3 linked regions of the Homo sapiens genome follow. The protein of the gene in region 3 purifies or fractionates together with the protein of the main gene of each other region. This does not show direct contact. Each region holds a gene or a part of one and is shown on either strand. Other genes may lie near its edges. The genes, in order: ABCF1, LRRFIP1 and FKBP3.

The links.
Region 1: the proteins of FKBP3 (region 3) and ABCF1 fractionate together in Homo sapiens (co-fractionation; one large-scale study listed by BioGRID). This does not show direct contact.
Region 2: the proteins of FKBP3 (region 3) and LRRFIP1 fractionate together in Homo sapiens (co-fractionation; one large-scale study listed by BioGRID). This does not show direct contact.

What each region holds. Positions count from the first base shown.
Region 1 is NC_000006.12:30,570,119-30,574,388, reverse strand, and holds the start of ABCF1 (ATP-binding cassette sub-family F member 1), read right to left. Parts: upstream 2,948-4,270; 5' UTR 2,902-2,947; coding exon 2,829-2,901; intron 1-2,828. UniProt on the Homo sapiens protein: Isoform 2 is required for efficient Cap- and IRES-mediated mRNA translation initiation. Isoform 2 is not involved in the ribosome biogenesis.
Region 2 is NC_000002.12:237,777,537-237,779,967, reverse strand, and holds part of LRRFIP1 (leucine-rich repeat flightless-interacting protein 1), read right to left. Parts: intron 547-2,431; coding exon 436-546; 3' UTR 1-435.
Region 3 is NC_000014.9:45,120,982-45,124,634, forward strand, and holds part of FKBP3 (peptidyl-prolyl cis-trans isomerase FKBP3), read right to left. Parts: intron 640-3,653; coding exon 504-639; intron 1-503. UniProt on the Homo sapiens protein: FK506- and rapamycin-binding proteins (FKBPs) constitute a family of receptors for the two immunosuppressants which inhibit T-cell proliferation by arresting two distinct cytoplasmic signal transmission pathways. PPIases accelerate the folding of proteins.

The sequences.
Region 1 (4,270 bases), on a different chromosome or scaffold from region 3:
AGGTGGGAGGACTGGTTGAGGCCAGAGGTTCAAGATTAGCCTGGGCAACATAGCAAGACCTCATCTCTACAGAAAACAAAAAACAAAAACAAACAAAAAATAAGCCAGGCATGGCGGTGTGTGCCTGTAGTCCCAGCTACAAGGGAAGATGGCTTGAGCCTGCGATTGAGGCTGCAGTGAGCTGAGATCGCGCCACTGCACTCCAGCCTGGAGTGAGGCTCCGTCACAAAAAAAAAAAACCCACCAAAACCAAAAAAATCTTTTGTACTTTAATCACTCTTATCCACTTCATTATAGGGACAGGAAAAGCCTCCGAAGAGTTTCATTGTGAGAAAGTATAATCCCCAAGGAACTGAAAAAGATTAAGTGTGGCTAGAGATATACTGTGTCTTCTCTCCTTTCGTATATCGCTTAAGCTGCTCCTTCAAGGCAAGAAAGCAAGCCTTCTTTACCCTTATACCCCTCTCCCCCATTACTGTTTCGTATTCTTGTCCTCATTGGGTCTCAAAATCGTAATTCACAAGCTTCACTTTCTCTTCTCCCATACCTTTGAAACATACTGCAATCTGGTATCATCTCCGAATGAACACTACTTCTGCCAAAGTTGCCACTGAACCCTTAGCTCCTCAAACCACAAAGTATTTTTTGGTCCTTATTTTGCCTGACTTCTCTGCAGCATTCCATGCTGCCTACCTCCACACCTTTTTTATTCTCTTCTATCATTATTTAATTTCTGGGATCTTGCTCACTCCTGGTTTGCCTCCAGTTTCTCTGGCTGTTTGCCTTTCTCAGTCTCATCTCTTCAGCCTCCTTCCCCACCTGCTTCCTGCAATTGCTGAAGTTCTTTAGGGTTCCCACCTTTAACCTTCTTTTTGGTTCAATCTGCAAACACTCTCTAGGGGACTCTTCCATATCCAGCACTTCAACTCTACTTGCCTGTGTCTTTACTCCTAGTATAGTTGTCTCTCCACAGTGACTAAACAAACTCTCTTCTTGCCATTTCCTTTTAGAAATCCTCAGAAACGCCTAACTCAGCATTCAGAAGTTCACCTTATCTCTTTCCACTTCTTACTCTCCTGTCCATTACTGCTTTCAGTTAATAGTCTACTAGTCACTGGGTTACTTAAGTGTCAACCTTACTTCTCCCTTCATTTAATCAGTTCTCAGTTCCGATCAATGCCGCCTCCTTAGTAACTCTTTATTCTTCAGGCCTTGGCTTATCCCCTTACCACTTCTCACCTAGATCATGGCCAGAGCCCCCTAAATGGTCTCCCCGCCTCCATCTTGACCAGTTCAAGGCCATTCATTCTCCATTGCTCAGTGCTACAGGTGAACTGTTCATAATCATTCCTTATGCACTTCAATGGGCCTTCCTTCTTAATGTCTTTAGGATTAAACTCCTCGGAATGGCATCTAAAGCCTTTCATTATCTGTCTCCTGAGCATCTTTCTGACTTCATCACACTAGTCACCAGGCTCTAGTGGGACCAGTCAGGCTTGCCTACATCTCTACCTTCCACAAACTTCCTTGGCTTGGAATGCGCTTCCCCTTGCTAATTCACGATGATCTTTCAAGAATAAACTCTGGGGAGCAGATGTAGTGGCTCACGCCTGTAATCCCAGCACTTTTGGAGGCTGAGGCAGGAGAATTACTTGAGCCCAGGAGTTTGAGACCAGCCTAGGCAACATAGCCAGATCTTGTGTCTACAAAAAATTTTAAAAATAAGGTGTGGTGGTGCATGCCAGTAGTCTCAACTACTTGGGAGACTGAGGCAGGAAGATCCTTTAAACCCAGGAGGTGGAGGCTGCAGTGAGCCATGTTCATGCCACTGCACTCCAGCCTGGGTGATGGAGCTACAATGTGCCTCAAAAAAAAATACTCAGCTATTACATATTCTTGGGAGGCTTTGCTGACACTCCCTTACCTGTCTGAGTAGATGCTCCTCCTCTCTTCTACAGTCCCATAACATTCTTAAGCACCTTCATCATACTCTGACAACCACTGTCTGTCTGGTTAATGCTCTGACCCTTCACCATACTGGGTTGTCCCTTGAGGGAAAGTCTTATCTTTTATCTCTACATTCCCACTTCCTCCACACAGTACCTGGTATACAGTAGGCATCCAATAAGTGCTTTTAAAATTAGTTACTGTGTACCTACTGGGGTTAGTTGTGTCCATTTATGTCCCCCTTAAAACTGACTTCAACCCTGGGAGGATATCTTCATGTTTTTTTCCTTCCCCTCTCAAAGCACAGTATATAGAGTGCTTAATTAAAAACAAGCGCTTAACAAACTTTCGCTGCTTTTTAAGTAAACCTTAACCCTCATTCCAACATCAAAAATCTACACTCTTGCTCCAGTTGAGTGAGAGGGGTGTCTTAAGAAAGAAACCATGAAGGAGTCACCCTCTCTTGAGAAACAAGGGGGATCACAGGCTCCCAAGGTGTGTGTATGCGCGCGCAGGGGGAAGGGGAGGTCGAGGCAGGGCTCATATATTCCTGGTGGAATACAGTGTATGGTGGGGCGGATGTCCAAATTTTTTAAGCAAGGTTTTCCCATTTCTCCCCATCTCTCCCTCGGTGCCATATGCTCTTTCTTTTATCTCGCCCAGTCTCACTTAGGTCACGTGCGACATCTGGATCTCTTTCCTTTAACCCCGATTCCAAACCCACTCCTCCCCGGCAAACTCCTCCCGGGCCCACGGCACGCATGCGCAGTAACTCCCGCAGGGGCCCGGTCAGTCTCGTGCCCCATGACCCTCTCTTAAAACACGCGCAGTCTCCTCTCTCTTCCCCCTCTGCTCGTTTCTTCCTTGCCTACCAGCCTCACCTGATGGGCTCGTGCTCTCTCCGTCCCCGATCCACTCGGGCTCCGGCGGCTGCTGCTTGGGCGCCTTCGGCATCGCGGTGGCAGTTACAGCTACTGTGGCGGCGCCCGGTGCTATTTCCGCTTCCGGCGGCGGGGAACCCCGATGGGGCTGGCTCTCCAAGCTGGCGCGGCCAACCCCGCCCCCGGGCTGCGCACGTGCGAGCTTCGCCGTCATCTCGGGGGCGTGGCCCTGGTTCAGTGGAGGCGTGGCCTGCAATGACGGAGCGGGGCCGGCGTCCGCTTGCTCCAGTCGCGTAAACACATGGCGTTTACGACTGTCTGGGAAGCCTGACGCCGTGACCTCCCGACGCCGCGAGACTCAAGGAATGAACATAATAATTTCCTACTAGTATGAAGGAGTTGAGGCATACTGTTTTTTTGTTTGTTTTGTTTTTTGTTTTTTTAAAAAGCATATTCTAGTTTCTATCTGTAACTCGTTTCTAGTTCTGCCACCGCGATGCCGAAGGCGCCCAAGCAGCAGCTGCCGGAGCCCGAGTGGATCGGGGACGGAGAGAACACGAGCCCATCAGGTGAGGCTGGTAGGCAAGGAAGACACGAGAGGAAGGGGAAGAGAGAGGAGACTGCGCGTGTTTTAGGAGAGGGTCATGGGGCGCGAGACTGACTGGGTCATGGGCAGAAAAGACAGTGCAGACCAATGGCTAAGGGAGAGGTCTGATCGGTCCAGTGTTGAAATGTGTCACAAAATCCCGAAGTGTACAATTGTAAACAGGGAACTGGAGCCCAACATGCAGAAGTCACGGTGCAGTGGAGCTTCGGTTCATTTATTTTTTTTGGTAACAGCTTTACTGAGATATAATTGACATACAATAAACTGTACACAAAATAAAATGGCACCCAAAATAAACTGCAAAGTATCACTTAAATAAGTTTTGACCTGCATAAACCCAGTAAACTATCACCACAATCAAGACTTTGGTTCACTTCTAACTCTACCACTTAATATGGGAGCTTGAGCAAGGTGCTCCTGTAGTTCTGTCAGCTCTCAAACCACTACAATCATGCTTTTGTTGCCACCATTGTCTGAATTCACACTTGCCAAAGTCAACAGATCTGGGGCCATCCTACTCACTCTCCCATCAATGTTTGATAGACTTGGTCGCTCCCTCCCTCCTTTGTTTTCTTCAGGGACACTACTCTCTATAGGTTTCCTTTGCATCTAATGGGCTTCTCCTGAAGTCTAAATGTTGAAGTGCCTCAGGGCTAAATCTTTGACACTCTCCTTAATCTAGACTTATCACCTATCACCTCCTGACTTTAAATACCATCTATAACCAATGAAGATTCCCAAACTTCTCTTGCTGGCCCCCAACTTCTGCCCCGAGCTCCAGGCTCATGAATTCAACTGCTTATGGGACATCTTCTCTGAGATCTTTAATAAATCT
Region 2 (2,431 bases), on a different chromosome or scaffold from region 3:
AAATTGTAGATTCTGCCATGAAAGGAAGTCCCAACACTGTAACATTTCCCCTTAATCTTCAGCAAGACACATGAAAAAAAAAAAAAACTCAAGTCCCAACTGAATCTTTACTTTGATCATCACTTCCAGCGGCATTCAGAGGCTGCTGTGCGGTCAGACACAGAGCTCCCTCGAGGCCCCTGTGTGCTTATGAAGTACCTGCAGGTTCTGAGCGTCGGCGCCAGCCCGGGCCAGGGGTCTGCAGACAGAGGCACCTGGTGGCTGCTGGGGCTCCCTGGGGTGAGCCATGGCACGGGAGCCCCTAAGCGCCAAGCTCGCCACGGTCTTCGTCTCTCGGAAGGCAGGGGAAGAAGCAGCGCTCCCAGATAGGACAGAGAAAAGCCTATGAAACAATGCTCTCCAGTCACCAACCAGTTGCCTGATCAGAGCTGGAATTTACTGCTGGGACAAGAGTGCACTCCGATTTGCTTTCATTTTTTCCAGACGCTTCACTAAGTGGCCGTTGCTCACCTCGAGCTCTTCTGTTTTATCCAATGCAGAGCGGAGCTGGGAACGGAGGAAAGGCAGTGAGCTTTAAGGAACTTGTTTCCTCCAAACATAACAGGGTTCTGTGTTACCGAAATTCCAATCCTACTGAAAAATAAAATGATAACTTGGCCCCTGGTCCCTCATGATGCCCTTCCTCCTCTGAAACAACTGGACTCCAGAGAGGGAACACCCTTGGGGATCCTGATGGTTTTCTTTTTTTTTTCTTGAGATGGAATCTCGCTCAGTCGCCCAGGCTGGAGTGCAGTGGCGTGATCTCGGCTCACTGCAAGCTCCGCCTCACGGGTTCAAGCGATTCCCCTGCCTCAGCCTCCCGGGACTACAGGTGTGCGCCACCACCCTCAGTTAATTTTTTGTATTTTAGTAGAGACGGGGTTTTGCCATGTTGGCCAGGATGGTCTCGATCTCCTGACCTCGTGATCTGTCCGCCTTGGCCTCCCAAAGTGCTGGGATTACAGGCATGAGCCACCACGCTCGGCCTCTTTTTTTGTTTGTTTTTTTTTTTGAGACAAAGTCTCGCTCTGTCACCCAGGCCAGAGTATAACGGTGTGATCTTGGCTCACTGCAACCTCCGCCTTCTGGGTTCAAACAATTCTCTTGTCTCAGCCTCCTGAGTAGCTGAGACTACAGGTGCACACCACCACACCTGGCTAATTTTTTGTATTTTATTAGAGATGGGGTTTCACCATGTTGGTCAGGCTGGTCTTGAACTCCTGACCTCAGGTGATCTACCCACCTCGGCCTCCCAAAGTGCTGGGATTACAGGCGTGAGCCACACGCCCAGTGGGGATCCTGATGGTTTCACAAAAGGTAAGTGAGGCATGAGGTAAACAAACACAAACAACAAGAGCTGAGCCTGGACTGCATGGCGAAGGTGGTCCCCACAGCCCTGGCAGCCAGAGTCCAAGGCAGGAATGCCTGAGGCCAAGACGGCCACACCTGGGAGCCAGGGCCATGGAGCCTGAGAGTCAGGCAGAAGACGAGCTGCAGAAGCCACATTAGCAGGGCATCATCTGGACCCACAGGCAGCAGGGCAGAGTGGGGTGCCCTAAGCTGGGAGAACGTGGTTTTGGAGGGGTGACAAGAACAGGGTCTATGGCTCTGCTTTCGACCCAAAACACTCAAGGAAGCTTGTTTGGGTCCTGGGACAGAAGTCCCGACCCCACCTCACTAGCAGAGGCAGAAGCAAGCCCTTTTTGCAGGAAGTTTCCACAAGTTAAGCCTGGAGTTATTCCTACAAATTAAAATCAAGCATAAGCTCACAAAACACTAAGGTGACAAACCATTTGAGTGAGAGTCAACAGAAGCAATAAATGACAGAATTAGACCCCCAAAGACTGAGCATGTTTCAGTTGTCAGATACAGAAAACCAAACAGCTGTGTATGAAATATTTAAAGAATAAGAATACAATTTAAAAAGAGGACATACATGAACATGCAGCAAGAAACTATCAACAATGAAGACACTTTTTAAAAAAAATGGTGAACTGGAAAATCTTTGCAAAAACTTTAGGCATTATCCAATAGAGAGAGGTAAGGAGATAGAAAACATGAAAGAGAGATGGTTAAAAAATGTGGAGACAATGAGAATCTCTAACATCCTCTGATTAGAGTTCCAGAGGGGAAAGTGGAGAGACTAAAAAAGAGGAATTATTTAAGGAGTTAATGGTTGAATATTTTCCAAAATCAATTTTTAAAAAGACTTCACAGATCCAAGAAACACTATATATCTCAAGCAGAAAGATTCCAATAAACTACATCTAACAGTAAAACTGTAGAAAATCAAAGACAAACAGAACCTGAAAGAAACTAGAGAAGAAAAAAAAAGGTCCCTACAAAGGACCGACCGTTAAAACAACAACTTTCTCAACAGCTCAATGGAAGC
Region 3 (3,653 bases):
ATGATATACTCTAATTTATTATTAAGAAATTTCCATTGGAAATTATTAAATTCCAGTGGAAAAATATAGTGGTTTGATTTCAGAATTACAATACTATGTATTTTAAAAGAAGGAAAAAATTTACAAAGATCATCCATCAATAAAATTCTGGCTGTAAAAATAATTACATTCTTAACAAAGGGTAGAGGGGTAGGACCTATACTTATATCACAAAACAGCATACTATCCTGCCTTTTCTATTCAAATACTAATGCCTTACTTTGGGACATTAACCAGGTTTAGACTGAGATTCCTTATCTTTTGCTTTCCAAAGAACAAGAGGTCTTTAGCCAGCCAATAATCAGTGAACTGAAGACCTCTTCCAAGTAGATCTTGGGGGAAAGTATGTCTGGATGAAAGTAGGTGACAGTCAGGAAAAAGGTACTGCTAACTACTCATCTGTCTGCCACCCAAGTATTTAGAATCTCTTTAAGCCAAAAACATAAGATTCCATTTAGACTTACTTGTTTGAATATTAGTATCAAAAACAGTCCCATCTTGTAGTGTTCCTGTATACCAGCAGTGAACAACATCTCCCTTTTTGGGAAAGTTGGTTTTATCTCCCTTTTTCAGAACAGATTTAGTATATTTTGGTGGACCCTAAAAACAAAAAACAACACACACACACAGAGTTATTAATTTGTGTCCTTTAAAAGAATGACAAACAATAGCCAACAATGACCAAAGTCAGTTTAAAGAGTTTGATGGATTTGGTAATAAATAAACAAACAAAACCCTCAGTATCTAATTTCAAGGCTGTGATGTGACTATTAGTAACTTACACATCTATAATTTAATTTCAAATAACTTCCAGCTTCTTTGGAAGCCTAAATTCTTCTAATAAGATTCTGTTAATAATTCACCAAACCATAACATGATTTCAGTTATTTCCTAAAGTTAAAAAAAATCATTACTATTTAATTCCTATGAAATCATAAGGCATTAAAATAAGGGATGGTGACTTCCCCCCCACAAAGATTTGAACTGTTTTAGCAGCAATAATTGATATTACTAGGTGTTTTTATAATAACCAATTAGAATGAATACAGTGATATTGCCTCTGTCCCCGATTTGGAAAATAAATTCACACAATGGATGAAATTACCTAAAGAAATTGCTATAACAGGCATATTTCCTAGAACAAAGTAGGATTATCAGGGTCTTCTACAAAAAAGGTTACATATTAATCTAATCAATAGCAATTCATATATGAGAGGAAAGCAGACAGAGGAACTGTCAAGAATCTTAGGGAGTTAATTAAAAAAAAGAAGAAGTGTACCGAATTTAAAAGTATCCTTACCTAAATCTATTTGGTTTCTGAATTCAGACCAAATTCAGAGGGATCTGCATTATCCAAATCTATATTTGGTTTCTAAATTTCATAAAATAAATAACAAAGGTGTGCTTGGATATCCAATAATTCATATCTATTAGTTCCTGAGTTTGAAAAGCAAGAGAAAAGTGTTTTCTTTATTCCTGACCTATTTCTTTTTTTTTCTGAGATGGAGTCTCACTCTGTCGCCAGGCTGGAGTGCAGCGGTGTGATCTCGGCTCACTGCAACAACCTCTGCCTCCTGGGTTCAAGTGATTCTCCTGCCTCAGTCTCCCGAGTAGCTGGGACTACAGGCGCCTGCCACCACGCCCAGCTCATTTTTTGGATTTTTAGTAGAGACACGGTTTCACCATGTTGGCCAGGATGGTCTCGAACTCCAGACCTCGTGATCCGCCCGCCTCGGCCTCCCAAAGTGTTGGGATTACAAGTGTGAGCCACCGCGCCTGGCCTATTCCTGATCTATTTCTAATTGGTCAAGTTATGCAAATTTTTATTCACTTTCATTTCCCTAGCTGAAGGTTTTATCCTTTTCCAAAACTTGTAAGTAAAAATATCTGTGCTGGGTGCGGTGGCTCACACCTGTAATCTCAGCACTTTGGGAGGCCAAGGTGGGTGGATCACTTGAGGTCAAGAGTTTGAGATCAGCCTGGCCAACATGGTAAAACCCCATCTCTATTAAAAATACAAAAATTAGGTGGATGTGGTGGCGTGTGCCTGTAATCCCAGCTACTCGGGAGGTAGAGTCAGGAGAATCACTTGAATCCAGGAGGCGGAGGTTGCAGTGAGCCAAGATGGCACCACTGGGCGACAGAGCAAGGCTCCATCTAAAAAAAAAAAAAAAAAAGTCTGATCTCCTTGCAAATAGTCTACCTCTTGGGCAAAAGATTCTCTCCCTGACCAAACCCTAGCTAGGGTCCTCTGAGACCTCTTCTTCACAAGCCTTCAACCTTGGACTATAAAGATTTGAACAAACACAAGTTTCAAATAGCTCAAGGCCTTATTCCTAGGAGGACCTGATCCCTCCTTAAAGTGTCCGCCTAAGAAAACTTAAGGCTGCCAAAAAAAATTTACTGTTTGTTCCAGCCAACGCCTCAAGATGAAGATAGGACCCCTGTCTCTGTCTCTGTGGGAGCCTGATTTTGATAAGCGCCAGTTGGCAAACTCAGATGGGTTTCATATGGACCAACCCCACTTCCTACTTTATGTAATTTTTCACTTCTCTAACTCTGCTTAAATCCCTCTCTACTCCTTTTTTTTTTTTTTTTTTTTTTTTTTTTTTCAGATGGAGTCTTGCTGTGTCACCTAGGCTGGAGTGCAGTGGCATGATCTCGGCTCATTGCAAGCTCTGCCTCCCGGGTTCACGCCATTCTCCCGCCTCAGCCTCCCAAAGTAGCTGGGAGTACAGGCGCCCGCCACCACACCCAGCTAATTTTTGTTTGTATTTTTAGTAGAGACGGGGTTTCACCATGTTAGCCAGGATGGTCTCCATCTCCTGACCTCGTGATCTGCCCGCCTCGGCCTCCCAAAGTGCTGGGATTACAAGCGTGAGCCACCAGGCCCAGCCCCCTCATTCTTTTAAAAGGCCCAGTTACCCCTCCACAAATCAGACTGGAGTTTAGCTCTTTCCCCTACTGTCAGTAGGCTGAATAAAATCTGTTTTCACCACTTTAATGTCCGATTGTGTTTATCTCTGACACCTTGAGTCAGTCCTCTACTCAACTGCTAGAGTGATATTAACAATTACTGCTTATAGTTTTGTGTCCAAAGGCCTAAACCATGCAGGATCTTAATCTATCCCTCCCTGAAGTTCCAGAATTCTATCAGCCTTTGAACTCTTGTCTTTTCCATGACCTTCTCAGTAGAGCAGGTGCATACAGCATAGAAATCTTTCAATCAGCTGGGCGCAGTTACTCACACCTGTAAACCCAGCACTTTGGGAGGCCCAGAAGGGTTGATCACCTGAGGTCAGGAGTTCGGGACCAACCTGGCCAACATGGTGAAACCCTCATCTCTACTAAAAATACAAAAATTAGCTGGGCATGGTGGCAGGCGCCTGAAATCCCAGCTATTTAGGGGGCTGAAGCAGGAGAATCACTTGAATCCAGGAGGCAGAGGTTGCAGTGAGCCAAAATTGTGCCACTGAATTCCAGCCTGGGTGACAAGAGTAAAACTCTGTCTTAAAAAAAAAATTATATATATATATTTTTTTTTCTTTTTTTAAGAGACAGGGTTTCAGTGTTGCTGAGGCTGGAGTGATCATACCACTGTAAAATACTGAGAT